3 separate regions of the Homo sapiens genome follow, and regions 1 and 2 are each reported to be linked to region 3. Evidence: microRNA targets listed by miRTarBase, many of them from high-throughput screens and not tested one by one. Region 3 holds a microRNA gene; each other region holds the end of a gene's coding sequence.

Region 1 (5,000 bases), not on the chromosome of region 3:
GTGATTTCGGTCTGTCCCTGACTGTCCTGTGAGAATTGGGGTGTGGGGTGCACCTACAACCTCAACCAGCTTTCCTTCACTGCTCCTTTGCCCTCCCAAAGGGAACCCGGGGACCCCAGTGGTCTGGTGAGGGGCACTTCGATCCAGGGATTGGCTGGCGGGAGGGAGCCAGGGGTTCAGCAGGGCCTCCGAGATCGCCCCGGAAGCGCGGGGCTCGCGGCCCAGCTCGGCAATGCTATTCTCACGGCTTCCTTTGCCCTCTCCCCCCTCCCTTCTGCCCTCGGTCCCCACCCCCACCCCACCCCGGCCCTCTCCGCCGCTGCAGGTCCGCGCACCAGGAAGCTGAAGAAGAAGAAGAACGAGAAGGAGGACAAGCGGCCGCGGACCGCGTTCACGGCCGAGCAGCTGCAGAGACTCAAGGCGGAGTTCCAGGCAAACCGCTACATCACGGAGCAGCGGCGGCAGACCCTGGCCCAGGAACTCAGCCTCAACGAGTCCCAGATCAAGATCTGGTTCCAGAACAAGCGCGCCAAGATCAAGAAAGCCACAGGCATCAAGAACGGCCTGGCGCTGCACCTCATGGCCCAGGGACTGTACAACCACTCCACCACCACGGTCCAGGACAAAGACGAGAGCGAGTAGCCGCCACAGGCCGGGGCCGCGCCCGCGCCCCCTCCCGGCACCGCCGCCGTCGTCTCCCGGCCCCTCGCTGGGGGAGAAAGCATCTGCTCCAAGGAGGGAGGGAGCGCAGGGAAAAGAGCGAGAGAGACAGAAAGAGAGCCTCAGAATGGACAATGACGTTGAAACGCAGCATTTTTGAAAAGGGAGAAAGACTCGGACAGGTGCTATCGAAAAATAAGATCCATTCTCTATTCCCAGTATAAGGGACGAAACTGCGAACTCCTTAAAGCTCTATCTAGCCAAACCGCTTACGACCTTGTATATATTTAATTTCAGGTAAGGAAAACACATACGTGTAGCGATCTCTATTTGCTGGACATTTTTATTAATCTCCTTTATTATTATTGTTATAATTATTATAATTATTATAATTATTTTATCCCCTCCCCCACCGCCTCGCTGCCCCCGCCCAGTTTCGTTTTCGTTGCCTTTTTCATTTGAATGTCATTGCTTCTCCGGTGCCTCCCGACCCGCATCGCCGGCCCTGGTTTCTCTGGGACTTTTCTTTGTGTGCGAGAGTGTGTTTCCTTTCGTGTCTGCCCACCTCTTCTCCCCCACCTCCCGGGTCCCTTCTGTCGGTCTGTCTGTTCTGCCCCCCTTTCGTTTTCCGGAGACTTGTTGAGAAATACGACCCCACAGACTGCGAGACTGAACCGCCGCTACAAGCCAAAGATTTTATTATGTTCAGAAACCTGTAGTCTGAAATAAAGTGTACACTGTGCTCACGAGCGCTGGCGGCTCTCCTGTTTGCGGGCTCGGGAAGGACGTGGGTCCGGGCACACAGCGCCCCAGCGCCCCTGCGCACGCCGGGCGGGGAGCCGGCCGGGCCTTGCGATCACCGCACAACGAATGCAGGGCGAAGGGGAAGCGCGACCCAGATTTGGGTTTAGCCTGGGTCTGAAGGGTCTGGCGGGACACGCCTGGTCTCCGATTGCGTTCAAGGGAACTCAAAGGCCGACAACCACAGTCCTGGCTTCGGAAACGCTGCCTGGGCTGCGGGGCAGCTCCCCGCACCGGTCCAGGCCCAGCCCAGTGGCGGCCTCCTCCTGTACAAACTGCTTTTCACTCCAACCTGCACTTTTCTTTTTCTTTCTTTCTTTTATTTCCCCTGGTGCAGGTTTTGCTGCAGATTTTTTTTATCCAGAGATAGAAGGGGGCCTGCCTTCCTCCCTCCCCGACAGCCCGCTTGGGCGAGGGGCACTTTGGCCTGGCCTCTTGGCCGCCTGGACTCACTGCACTTCGTTTGCGGGAGGGCTTCTGTTGGCGAAGCAGCAGGTCCGGGGGCGGCCTGCGGAGCCTCGCGGGGCTCGGATCTCCTGGGCCCGCAATGCCGGAGGAGAGGAGGCCCAAATGCTGGGAAAGCTGTTCGGAGTGGCTGCTTGGGCCTTGAACCCGAGGTGGGCGCACGTCTGCCGTATCTGGGCCCTAAACCAAAGAGGGTTCCCTTAGGCATCCCAACAAAGCCTAACTTTCTTCCTCACCAAGGGGGGCGCACATAGAAGCCCCCAGGGCCCTCAGGACACCCTGGGTTCCCAGAAGGAAATGTCTGGCCTCTTGCTGCTAACACTGGGGCCCATCCTTCCAGAGCAGGAGCTGCTCTCAGATCTTAAGAGGTTAAGGGGAGGAAGGGAAGTTTCCTTCTCAGGAGGTATTATCTTTGTCCAGGATTTTTTTAAATTGTAAATTCCACTCCCACATTTTTTCTCTCTTCGGCAATATGTATGTATATACCCACACGTGTGCAGCTAGACGGGCAGGTGCCCACACATACTTGTGTGCATATACAATAATGTGCAGATATTGGTGCACCTAAGTTCCTACCAGTTTTTTGTGTATTCCTGTACCCGTGAGTATTGTGCAACTGATTTTCTTCTCTAATTAGATACACAATTGGACGTTTGTGAGTTCACTGTGTGTACATGCATGAATTTGTGTTTGCACACTGGAATGTCTGCAGGTGTGTTTGCTGGGTTTGTTCATGTGTGAGATCCCTGTTCTCTGTGCTCTTCCCTTGAGTTTCTCAACTGTTTTTGTAGGATTGATTTTGTGCAAAATGATAATGGCTAGTTATTCCACCTTTTTTATTGAAAAATTTTCCCTGATTTGGCCCAATGTACTGTTTGCTCCTGGCCGGGGAACTAACAGGGCTAGATCTCAATCCCAGGAAGCCTAGGTCCCCTCCAAATCCCTACATAAGGGTTTGGCGGCTAGAGTGGAATTGGAGGGTGCATTTGACACTGCTGTGGGTTCCCAACTTTATTGCAATTAATTTCCTTCCTTCCATCTGCCCATTGTTTTCTGGAGGAGTAACTCTTGCATATAATAGGTGCTCAACCAATCTTTGTGGGCAGAGTTAGAAGCAGTGAGATGGGCCCTTCCCTGGGGTTGGTCTAGGGGAGTTGTTTTCTGGTAGTCAAAAGCCTGTGCTTTGCTTGCCTTGGGGAGTGGGCTTGGACTCTTCAAGCCTTCCAGGCTTTCCTGTTAAACAGTCTGAGGCCTGTGTCTTGGAGCACCCTTCTCCTAATACCTCTCAGAATTTCAGGAAGAGTCCCATTCCATTTCACCCTCCCAGCACATCAGATGTGATGTTAAGGATGCTCAACTCTATATATTGGAGAACCTTACTATTTTGAATGTCTAGGAATTGGCTACACTCCCTTCTCCCCTCCCTATTGTGGCCTCTTAGGATATTCAAGTCCCCCAAGACTACCAGGTCCAGAGGCTGGGACAGAGGTCGGTGTGAGCAGCAACTCTAGGAACCACCCCATTCCTCATGCTCCCCTTCCTCTATCCAAGAGATCAAAGTCAAGAGCTCTTTCCTTTAACCCAGCGAGAGGAGGAGAAGGTGGTCACCCATCCCCATGATTGTGTCAGTAAAGTGTATAGACGTGAATGTCATTATTATGTAATTTGCTTTCTTGCCCATTATCTCCTTTTATCTTCCAATCACTATGGGAAAATGGATTTTTCTTCATTGTTCAGTGAAAGAACATGAAGCTCTGAGAACTTAAACATTTTGTTTGTGCCTCCTCCTTGACTATGTATGTCTAAGTCGCATCGACCTCAAGGATCTGGCCAAGGCCCTGAAGCCATCATCCAGGATGACTTTCCCATCTTCTCTCCATTTTTCCTTCTTTCTGATTGGAGTAGAGGAGAGGGGAGGAGGATTCTGGTGGGACCTTTTTCTTGCACGCCCTTTTAAAAAAAGAAACTAATAATGATCATAAACGGGCATTGATTTCTCTGATTTATGGGGCTGGCTTAGTGAGCCACCTGTGTATTCAGGTCTGGGGCTGCAGTGAAATAAATACTTGAGCACGCCATCCCAACTGCCTCATTTTCTGCTTTTCCTTTTTTTTAAAGATTGAATTGAACCATAAACTTAAATCTTCCTCAGCCTAAAAGGAAATACATGCTAGCTGAGTCTAAACAGTATTGATCCCTGGTTCTTTCTGAGGGCAAAGGTCTCTGTTTTCTTGCTGGAAACTCTCTTTTCTTCAGTAGGGTTAGGGGGAAGGCCATGGATGGGGCTGAGGGAAGGAGGAAGGAAAGTGGAAGGAGAGGGTGTTGTGGTATTTGGGAATGTGGGGTTGCTTGGTGTGATTGCGTTGGTTCGTGTGTATTCGTGGGTTGTACTGTGTGTGGGCATTTGTATAGGGATGGTACTGAGTATATTTATTTAGGTTTGGGAGGTGGAAGTGTGTGCTTTGGGTATATGGCCTCTAGTAGTGACTGTTTGATGTCTGTGGGTGTGTGTATGTGTACCCAGTTCTTAAGCTCCCTAGATGGGGCTGCCCAGGGAACAGAGCAGTGACCTGCTAGCCTGTACCCTCCCAGGCCCCTACACCCATCTGTCACCTGTGGCAGGGTGTCTAGAGATAATACCATGGGGGAGGCCACTGTGCCCCAGGACACTCCAAGCCCCAACACACACAGTAGAAAAAAGGCCCCAAAAAGGGCCAAGCTACAAGGCAGGGGTGAGCTTTGGCTGTCTCCTGGAGGTCCAGGAGATGCAGGCCAGGGCCACACTGCACCCTGGATGAATGTGTCTGCCGCAGCTACTGTGGGATGGCCATCAATTCCTTCCATGGTCAGCCTGGTTTTTCCTTTGTGTGAATGAGACAGGCCGTTCTTCTGGCGATCTAGTCAACCCACTATCCTCTGCTTCCACCATACAGGGGAGCAGGGCAGAGAAGGGCAGAGAGGCATCCAGGTGTCCTCCCCAGCTTCACCTCAGAGCCTGGACCCTTTTAGTCTGGATGTCACAGTGGGTTCAAATGGAAGACTATGCTCATCCCCGTCTGTGGGAGGTGGCAGAG
Region 2 (5,000 bases), not on the chromosome of region 3:
CAGAACCACCGCTACAAGATGAAGCGCGCCCGGGCCGAGAAAGGTATGGAGGTGACGCCCCTGCCCTCGCCGCGCCGGGTGGCCGTGCCCGTCTTGGTCAGGGACGGCAAACCATGTCACGCGCTCAAAGCCCAGGACCTGGCAGCCGCCACCTTCCAGGCGGGCATTCCCTTTTCTGCCTACAGCGCGCAGTCGCTGCAGCACATGCAGTACAACGCCCAGTACAGCTCGGCCAGCACCCCCCAGTACCCGACAGCACACCCCCTGGTCCAGGCCCAGCAGTGGACTTGGTGAGCGCCGCCCCAACGAGACTCGCGGCCCCAGGCCCAGGCCCCACCCCGGCGGCGGTGGCGGCGAGGAGGCCTCGGTCCTTATGGTGGTTATTATTATTATTATAATTATTATTATGGAGTCGAGTTGACTCTCGGCTCCACTAGGGAGGCGCCGGGAGGTTGCCTGCGTCTCCTTGGAGTGGCAGATTCCACCCACCCAGCTCTGCCCATGCCTCTCCTTCTGAACCTTGGGAGAGGGCTGAACTCTACGCCGTGTTTACAGAATGTTTGCGCAGCTTCGCTTCTTTGCCTCTCCCCGGGGGGACCAAACCGTCCCAGCGTTAATGTCGTCACTTGAAAACGAGAAAAAGACCGACCCCCCACCCCTGCTTTCGTGCATTTTGTAAAATATGTTTGTGTGAGTAGCGATATTGTCAGCCGTCTTCTAAAGCAAGTGGAGAACACTTTAAAAATACAGAGAATTTCTTCCTTTTTTTAAAAAAAAATAAGAAAATGCTAAATATTTATGGCCATGTAAACGTTCTGACAACTGGTGGCAGATTTCGCTTTTCGTTGTAAATATCGGTGGTGATTGTTGCCAAAATGACCTTCAGGACCGGCCTGTTTCCCGTCTGGGTCCAACTCCTTTCTTTGTGGCTTGTTTGGGTTTGTTTTTTGTTTTGTTTTTGTTTTTGCGTTTTCCCCTGCTTTCTTCCTTTCTCTTTTTATTTTATTGTGCAAACATTTCTCAAATATGGAAAAGAAAACCCTGTAGGCAGGGAGCCCTCTGCCCTGTCCTCCGGGCCTTCAGCCCCGAACTTGGAGCTCAGCTATTCGGCGCGGTTCCCCAACAGCGCCGGGCGCAGAAAGCTTTCGATTTTTTAAATAAGAATTTTAATAAAAATCCTGTGTTTAAAAAAGAAAAAAAGAAAAAATCCCTGCCCTCCCGTTTGTCCTACTGCGCCGGGCCGGAGGCCTGGGCCTGGGAGCCGGGCCCGGCCGCCCGCGGGGCTCCCACAGGCGGTTCCTCTCGGGCGGGGAGGCCGGGGGTACCGGGGCCCTGGGGCGGGCGGGGCTCCCGGTGCAGGCCCCTCCGACCACAGGCTGCACCCCGCGCCTAGGATTGGGGCGGGGAGGAGAACGCTCGGCCTCCGGCCTGCGAGCGGTCGGCCGGAAGCCCAGGGCCGCCCACCCTCCCCCGCATCTCCCCTGGTCTCGCGCGCTGTCTGAACCCCGGGCGGCAGCGTCCGGCTACGGGAGGAAAAGTGACTTCGGGAGCCGCAAAGGCGAGGAGAGCAAACCCCCCTCGCTGGCCCAAATCTATGAGTGGCTCCTTCAGCCTGAGAAGCTGTTGAAGCCACTACACTCGATGACTTTCACTTTGTTACATTTGACTTACCTCACGCTAAGAAAGTGGGTGGGTGGGGGTCTGAGGTTAAGACTGGCTGCCTTCTCCCCACTCCCCACTCCTTTTCAAAATCTGCGGGCTGGTGCTGACCTAGGAGACCGCTAAGGCTGGGGGTGGGAACGGTCAGGGCGCGCGAGGCTTTGGCTTAGGGGGCTTGGGGGAAGTACGCGGGGTTCTGGGCTCGGGGGAGGGAGGGGATACTGCAGCCCTCCCTAGGATCTTTGGCCCCAGGAAGCCAGGGAGCGAGAATCTTTGGCAATCCCAGCAAACCATGCCTCTCCCTTCCCTTACGCTCCCATCCTTTCCGGGCTTCCAGGCCTCTCTCCGGGGACTGGATCCCGGGCCTCCTTCCCTCCAGCGTTCGGCGGTCCGAACCAGGGTGTGCGGTCCCCCCAGGTCAGCCCTTGAGCGTGGAACTGGGTGGATTGCTAGGAAGTAGAGGTTTGGGGGTGGGGTGAGCTCCCCGGATGGGAAGTGGGCACACAGCCCCGGGCACGCCCGGGAAGGGCGCATCCATCTTTCCGGCGGGGAACGGATTCCGTCCCACCCTTGTTGCTGGAGGAAGATCTCCTTGGCAGATGCTGGCGCACACTTGGCCACGCGGGGGAGCGTCTTAGGAAGCCTGGCCAACTGGAGGATGAGCCTTTCTCCTCTATCTCGCGGGTTTCTAAAAATACTTGGGACTCTAGCTCAGAGCCCAGCGGGTGCTGCAGACGCTGAGGGACTGAACGTCGGCGCATTTGGAAATTGTATCTCTGTTCTCTCCGAAGCTGCACCATCAAGGCTGGGGGGTTGGGTGGCAGTGAGGAGGCCGGGCAAAAGGAGCGGTCCCAGCTGACTTTCTCGCTCCCTGTAGTTGATGATCAGGTTTAATTCAATATCTAAAGCAAACATGATTATCCGTGCGACCAAATCTGTGCGTCGATAGCACTCTGCGCAGCAGCCCAGGGACGCGATGACACTTTATTCCCGCGTTCCACACCGCCCCTGGATAATTGAGGGCTCGGAAGTCTTTCTAATACCCCAGTAAAGGTCCTTTCCCATCTCCGGGCTCATCCTCGGGGAAAGGGCAGTTTTTCTAAATGCTAAAAGGTCTCCCTTTGTTCTCCACACTAGCTTGGCAATGTTTGGGGGCTTATGTCTTACTGTTTTTAAAGGCCAACGAATTTCTCCCAAATAGTTTGTTGTGCAATAATTGAACGCCCAACCTGCCCTGGTACTAACCACTCAACATCCACTTGCAACTTCCCCTAATCCCAAAATCCTCTTGGGAGGAAAGGTGAGGGTTTCAAGTCTCTTGGAGCGGAGCTGTCAGAAGGCCTGAGGCCATTTTGACTTTTCCAGGCCCCAGGGCTTCCAGGGTGAGAATGATCACAAGAGACCCTCAGGTTTCCAGAGAGGAAGGGGGAAGCGTGGAAGGTCCTCACCCTGGCAGGCTTCCACCACTTGCTCATTGAGGACAAATTTGGAGCTGTGGCCAGGACCGCGGGCCTGCAATCTGGGTGTGCGCTCCTGTGGCCGGCCGGGAGCCCGGGAGGTGGACCCGGCGCCCGCCTCTCTCTGTCCTCGGGTCCCCATGGAGTCAATAAAAGCGCCTGCGGAGCCCTGTGTGGCCCTAACCCCAGCGCCCTGGGAGCGCACCCGGCGCGGGGTCCGCTTCAGCAGTCTATCTTCGCCCAATCTACAGCGGGCGGTACAAAACCGCACAATGGGAAAGCTGGGAGCCGGAGATGTTAGAGGCGTGCATATTAAAAAGGGACAGAGAAAGGATCGCGGGGACAGAGAGAGGGGAAGAAGGAGAAGGGGCCCGCCCCCCACCCCCCGCCCCACCCCGCACCATTCAGCGCGCTTATCGCCGGCAGTGAATCCCGGAGTCAGGCAGAAGTCTCCTTGGGGTTTTGTTGGGCCTGTCACTGGGTCCCTTTGTCATCCACGGGCTCCATGCTGGATTCCATATGGCCAGCTGGGCCGAGGGAGCGCGAGGAGGGACCCGCACAAAACCTAAATTGTGTCCGGCTTTCAAACCCTGTATTGTTGTCTGTGAAAGGAAGACGCATTAAAAATTCGTGCTATATCTATTGGGGAGGAGGCTGGAGGAGGGGAGAAAAAGCCACCCCTGTCTTTGATGGCTTCGGAGGGCGCTTGCCCCGCCTAGGCCCCGTGACACTGAAAGTTGGATCTCTCTCATTCTGTCTCTCTCTCTCAAAATCTCTCTTTTTCTCTCTTCTCATAATCTCGCTCTCATAATCTCTTTCTCTACTTTCATAATCTCTTTTTCTCATAATCTCTCTCCCTTCCTCACTTCTCTCCTTCCTCTCTTCTGTCTCCTTGACTCTAACGCTGGGATGGGAGTCCGCGAACCTGCGTCTTCAGGGTTTGGCTCACTTGTGCGCACTTTGCTCACTGCTGTGTGTGTATCAGGAAACTAACTTCTGCCTGGGAGCTCTGCACCATCGGACCGTCCTGGGGCTCAGGAGGCAACTCAGGGTACCCAGGGCCTGGGTGATGCTCGGTCCCCTACGGGCTTAGCGGCTCCTGGGTAGATGAAAATCCACCCCCTGATTTCGCAACCGACCGGCCCCGAAGCGCCCGCGCGCGGAGCCGCCCTTCCACTCACCGCGAGAAAGGTTCTGAGAGGCCAAGGGTGCCGCTCAGTCCCGGGCCCAGCTAGACTTGGGCTGCAGCCGGTTCCAAGGCGACTTGCGCCCGGCCGGACCACTTGGTTACCAACCCCGAAGAGCTAAAGACGCGCGCGTTCCTTTGAATTATGCGCGGGGATCCATCCCACTGGCCTCTTGGTGCGATGGGAAACCACTTCAGAAACTTCTTCCAACAGCGTCTCTCCCCATGTTGGAGGAGGGAGATACTTCCTCTTTAATTTTCAATGTCTCCTGTATCGCGTGCTTACAAAATTCAGTACCAGGGAGACACAGCAGGGCTTCCAAGGAATTTGCCCATTTTTTGCCTCCTCTAAGCGGTCCAAATTGGCGCGAGGCAGTCGGAAATAATTTGGGTCATGCCTTCTCCCCTGCAATTGCCAGGTCAAAACTCCCATAAGCAGTCCCCAAATAAACCATATGTACTAAACAAAAATAGTTTATGCTGAGCTCTGTGGAAATAAAAACTGGAACCCAGATATGTTCCCCACAAAGTCACTCGGCCCTTAATGAGCAGAACTGAGCTGGTGGAAATTCCGACTAATGGGAAACTTGGATGCGCCCCCTTTCCTATTTAGTACAACGGTCATATTTAGTAGAATCAGATAATTTGGTAAGAGTGGAAGTCCCCCTTCCCAACATTCCCCACCTCAGATGGGGAAA
Region 3 (5,174 bases):
TCTGTTAGTCTCCCTAGGCTCAACAAAAGGACGCCCAGCTGTAGGACCCAGAGCCTCTGTGCACTCTCAAAGAGCCACTGTGTGGTCTGGTTACTTGGATTTTATTAGCAGAAGTGATTCTCTGTAAGGTCAGGGAACACCATCTGCTTTCCCAAATACTAGGTACATTCATCACTGTGGTGGAAACTGTGTTGGGATTTTAGGCCAGGTATCCAGTGTGGTGGTCACAAAAACTAAGAGCCCAAAGGTCTCAGTGTGCATGTGTATACTAATGCCATCATTTCTGGGGACAATACTGTTTATGATCATTTCACTTTTCTCACTTCCTCACCCTGTACAGGCCACATTAACTGGCACTCACTTCCTTGACACCCTAGGCACTGCCTTGCTTCTATATTTAGCTTGATGCTGCTCTAGAGTGCACTCTTCTCATTACAGTGTCATTATCTTACCTTGGGAGGGTCATTTTTGCGGTGATGTGGGAGAATGTGACAAACCAAAGCTACCAGGTTGCCATGGAATGTAGGTGGAGCCAGTGAGGTCTCTAACTGAATGGGAGAGGGTGTTTCCACATCCCTAAATTCTCCCATTGTGCTTTATTAAAGAGTAAAAAATGCCTCATATATTGTCTCTTGTTTTGACATCCACTAACAAAGTTAGTGAAGAGGAGAAAAAGCAATGGAGAAGTCAGTGGGGGAGGCCTAAACTTTTTTGAAATCTAATTCTGTTGCCCAGTTATCATATTCATCTAACTTTCTCATCCCCTCACATAGATCTAGAGTTTATGGGTTTAGTGGATTGCAGCATGTTTTGTAACTGCGTTTCTTTGTATGATGACACTCTACCACAAGACTGAAATAATCTCTTTAAAAATTGCCACACAATGGCACCAAACCTAATAAAAATCATTATAATTAGATATCTGCATCTTTTTTCTTCTAAAGGCATTAGTAACCAAGTAGAAAACTTGCACATAGCCTCTAAACCAAGATCCTCAAGATTGTAAATTAACCCTTTAATTAACGTTAGCATAAAATAAGATAGTCCAGAATGCAAGCAACACATTTCTACAGCATGTATCTAAACTGATAGCACCGTTACCACCAAAATGATAAAGGTAATAACGTTTTCCACAAATTAGAGAAAATATTGCCAAGTGATTTTTTAAAAATAAATAGTTATTTGAAACCCTTTAGTGTTCTCAAAACACTGTAAAAGTCTAAAGTCAATTCAGAGGTCAAATATATTCTTCCCCAAACTAATACAGTGCTGAAACAAGACAAAATCTGGCTGGAAGATATAGGTTTCTCTAATTCTTCTCCCACAGACTTTAAATAGGCCATGAGATAAACCAAAGAACATGTAACCATCCACAATACGGGGGAATTTAATTCTTTCTCCAATCTGACAGGATGCTAGCAGTGTCAGCATTGGTATTCTTAGGATGTCTGTGATTGGTGCTAATCCTTGGCAAGAACTGCACTTTTCTCATAGGTTATAAAAATGGTACATATTGTGTATATATTACATACATGTATCTGTATACATTCCATATGCATAACATAGATTCAGTGCAGAAATCAGATCACGGAGCAGGCATCTATGAGTAGCAGCAAGGAGCACGTGCTCTTTACATGACCTACTTACAGAAGGCAGAGTCTCCCCGTCAGGCAGTCTTCAGCATGACAATTAGCAGTTTTTCCTGCAGTTTGGTCAGCAGGAATGACACAAACCTCTCCCTAGCACAAGCCACTCAGCCCTGTCGGGTTCGTGCTGCTCTTTGGATAACGGCATTCCATTAGGAGTGTGACACAGTAGGGAAAGAGACCGGTTCACTGTGAGACCTGCTACTCACTCTCGTACAGTGTATCGGCCCCCCTTCCCACTGCACAGTGGCTGCCGGGCTCTGGGCAGGAGGCATGTGGCCATCATGAAAGTGAACCATGGAGTCAGAGTTCCACCGAGACACGCTGGATTGTCAATAGCCTTCTTCTAAAGGCAGTATCTTTTAGCACGATATTGAAACAACCTAATTTGGTTCCCTAGCCTTAAGAACAGAGGAAGCACTCTCTTCAAATTGAAAAGAAAAAAAAAATTAAAAGAAGGTATGAACTAGAAAGGTACGGACATGGTTGACTTTCTGCTTTAACAGAAGAAGGATCAAAAAATAATTTATGGAGACTGTTTAACATGCATGCCAGGGATGCTAGTCTGACATATGCTTCACCTTCTTGTACCTACTACTTTTCCACACAGAGTCAATCAAATGCTTTGTTATCTTCTCTGGGTAGAGAAAATGTGCTGGTTTAAATTGCCAAGCTTGGACACTCATCCAAAGAGTACAAGATTCACCAGCAAAAATAACTGGGTTGAGAAGCAAATGGGAAACAGATTCCAAGTACCTGCTTGCTGTGCTGCCTGTGGCATCTGTTGACTCCTCTGAGCGTTGTACTGAACCGGGGCCATGGGCCGGTACTGTTGCGTGGTTGAGGTAGGGTACTGACCAGATGGGTAATAATATACAGGCATCTGTGGAAGAAAGGAGGAAGAAAGCAGAGAATGAAAATGTAGATAATGTAAATTTTTAAACTTAAAATATGCTTTCGTCTTATAATTGTGGTAGGTTGTGAAGATGGCCACCGCAAACTTCTCCCATGCCTATGTGTATGTGCATGCTACTTCTCCCGTAAAGAGGCAAAATCCATTTCCCAAACTTAAATCTGAGCTGGTTCTGTGACTTTCTTTTACCAACGCCATGAGGCAGAAATGATGTCTGAGTCTTTCAAGTCTGATCCTAAAGAAGACTTGCAGCTTCCACGTCTGTAGGCGGGGAACCCAGCCAAGAGATAAAGAAGTCTAGACTATTCTGCTGCAGAAAAAGGCCATGTGGGGAACACAGGTACCCCCAATTGACTGGTTACCCTCCAGTTCCAGGCATGTAAGTGTAGCCCTAGTCAAGCCACCCCAGCCATATGGAGCAGAGATGAGCCATCTGTGATAAATCCTGCTCAATTGCTGACCTAGTCGTGATCATACAATGGTTGTTTTAAAACAAGACTTTTGTGTTTTTTAGATGAAACAAGAGAGAGTGAAACAGTTATCATCAACAACGAAAACCTACATTTTAAATATTATATCTAACTTGAATTGCTTTTCTAATGGAAACAGGGGTGAAACATGAAAACTGCTGATCTGTAGCCTAAAAGGAGCAGAGAATGCAATCATGAAATATGGTAGTCTATCAAAGCACATTGCAGAATGATTGGTACACACCACTATTCAAAAAAGTATGTTCAATCTAAAAGGGAAAATATGATAAAAATGTTGTTTATGCTACCTTCTTAACTTTCTTATGACTGAGAATGAATAAAATTATTCTGATTATTTGATTATGATCCAAATCAAATGTTTCCTGATCTGATAGACTTCTTTGCCTGCCTCAGTTCATTTATATTAAGGTCACTTTCTTACTGATCTTAGTTAATTATTTTCTATCTCTGGGCTTCTGAGTTTTCGCCTATCATATTCTCTAAAATAACAACTGAAGTACCCTAGTAGACCGCCTACAAACATTATATACATAGGATAAAATTACAAGTCAATTATTTGAGAACTGTGATTTTCATGGTTATTTTGTTTTCTGATTTGCTCAGGTCTAATAGGAAACACTTTTCTATTTCAATATTGCTGTTGAAACATATGTAACATATTTTGCTGCCTGAGGATAAAGTGGGAACAAAATATAACTTAATCTGTGTGAACCTGTAGCTCTGCAATTTCATGGAATCATGATGAATTATAACTGTGGCTACATAACATATGGATATTCAAGGGCAAGAGGCTGAATGAGTCTAAAGCAATCTTGGGTCAGTATCTGGCAACTAAGTCATTGTATACCTTGCTTATAGTGATTCGCTCTTACTACTTCTCTCTTTTTTGTCAGGCAGTTTATAACAATAAAAAACAAATAATTCTGGAGTAATAATAGCATTTAGCTATGCTCTGGCAAACTTTGGTGGTATTAAAGATGACTACCATTATGCATCAGATGCCTCCCAATATTAAAAATAGGAACAACTTTCATCTAATTTATTTGTCAGCATTTATATTTACATGTCTTTTAGGAAATAGCGTTTTGTTCCTTTAGAAAAGACTGTCTTGCTTAAATGTAAGCTCATGAATGTGATATCTATTCCTTGATCTCCCTTCTTATGTTCAATATAAAACATAAAATATCCTCAGGGATGAAGGAATTTATACTTAAAAATGTTCTGATGAGGACTAATGGTTACAATAAAAGTACAGCTGCATGGAAAAAAATTTTGAACTCAATTTTTGTTGTTGTTTGTTTTGTTTTTTTTCTTTTCCCCAGACATAGCTTCTGTGATACCTTCACAAGCTGTGCTAGAGATTTGGCTACTTGAATCCAGCGCCACTCCAAGGTGGCGCTTTGGTTAGCTCTTAGGAACTATGATCCCCAACCGGATGAAGCAAATGAGATCTTGGTCTAACCTCATCCTCTCTTAGAGAGGATGGAAAGAAAGCCAGGTTAACAGCAATCTTTTAAAAGATCAGTATGAAAGGTTTGAAAGGAGAGAGGTGAAGGGAGAAAGGAGTAAGAATAGCCCCAAAGCTCAGAAATGTATATTTTCAGCCAATCATGTTAAAATATGGAGAATCCAAAAAGGAGTGGATTAGAAGAGAAAAGAAAGAAGAAACTATAAAAAATATGCACTTCTCCCATTTCCCTTCTTCAAATCCCTCTTTGTCTCGTCCATGTGCTTTTCACTTCACCTTTCCAGTGGGCATTTAGGAAGCATACATGATGAGTCAGATGAAATCGACCTTTACATTTATTAAATAGATTCATTTTCTGCAGAAATTTAACATATTTCCACATATTTGTGGGCTGAATCTGAACTAAGTTATTTCCATTGTTCCATAGTTGGGTAATCAGATTTTAAAATGTTTACTAAATTGAAAGTTACTATGGGTTATAGCCTATACCTTTATCTGTGATTCTTCAAAAAGAAGTTCATAAATGTCTAGACTGATTATGAACCATGGACACCTGTTTTATCTCCCTCTCTTTCTATCTTTTTAAAAATCTGTTAAAGAAGGAATGAAAGTATTTCTGTCACAGACACAAGAGGGGTTATGAATTGCTTTTGTTT

The links. The annotated mature microRNA hsa-miR-128-2-5p reads GGGGGCCGAUACACUGUACGAGA and lies in region 3 at 1,856-1,878, opposite strand. An mRNA with a match to its seed (bases 2 to 7 or 8) in the 3' UTR can be bound and repressed. Matches are read on the target gene's strand: a 7mer-m8 pairs with bases 2 to 8, a 7mer-A1 pairs with bases 2 to 7 and ends in A, and an 8mer does both.
Region 1: miRTarBase lists EN1 as a target of hsa-miR-128-2-5p. Seed matches in the 3' UTR shown: 7mer-m8 at 700-706.
Region 2: the mRNA of NKX2-2 is a reported target of hsa-miR-128-2-5p. Seed matches in the 3' UTR shown: 8mer at 316-323 and 7mer-A1 at 330-336.

What each region holds. Positions count from the first base shown.
Region 1 is chr2:118,838,580-118,843,579 of GRCh38, reverse strand. It overlaps EN1 (engrailed homeobox 1), which reads left to right. Exons shown (of 2, transcript NM_001426.4): 2 at 326-1,409. The coding sequence ends at 642. Among named protein-coding and RNA genes, the nearest start is that of LINC01956, 4.9 kb to the right of the region's middle. RefSeq lists an enhancer at 757-1,337.
Region 2 is chr20:21,507,217-21,512,216 of GRCh38, reverse strand. It overlaps NKX2-2 (NK2 homeobox 2), which reads left to right. Exons shown (of 2, transcript NM_002509.4): 2 at 1-1,200. The coding sequence ends at 294. Among named protein-coding and RNA genes, the nearest start is that of NKX2-2, 4.3 kb to the left of the region's middle. RefSeq lists enhancers at 3,217-3,736, 2,834-4,304.
Region 3 is chr3:35,741,194-35,746,367 of GRCh38, reverse strand. It overlaps MIR128-2 (microRNA 128-2), which reads right to left and starts at 1,892; the gene lies at 1,809-1,892. It overlaps ARPP21 (cAMP regulated phosphoprotein 21), which reads right to left. Exons shown (of 21, transcript NM_001385562.1): 19 at 2,403-2,529.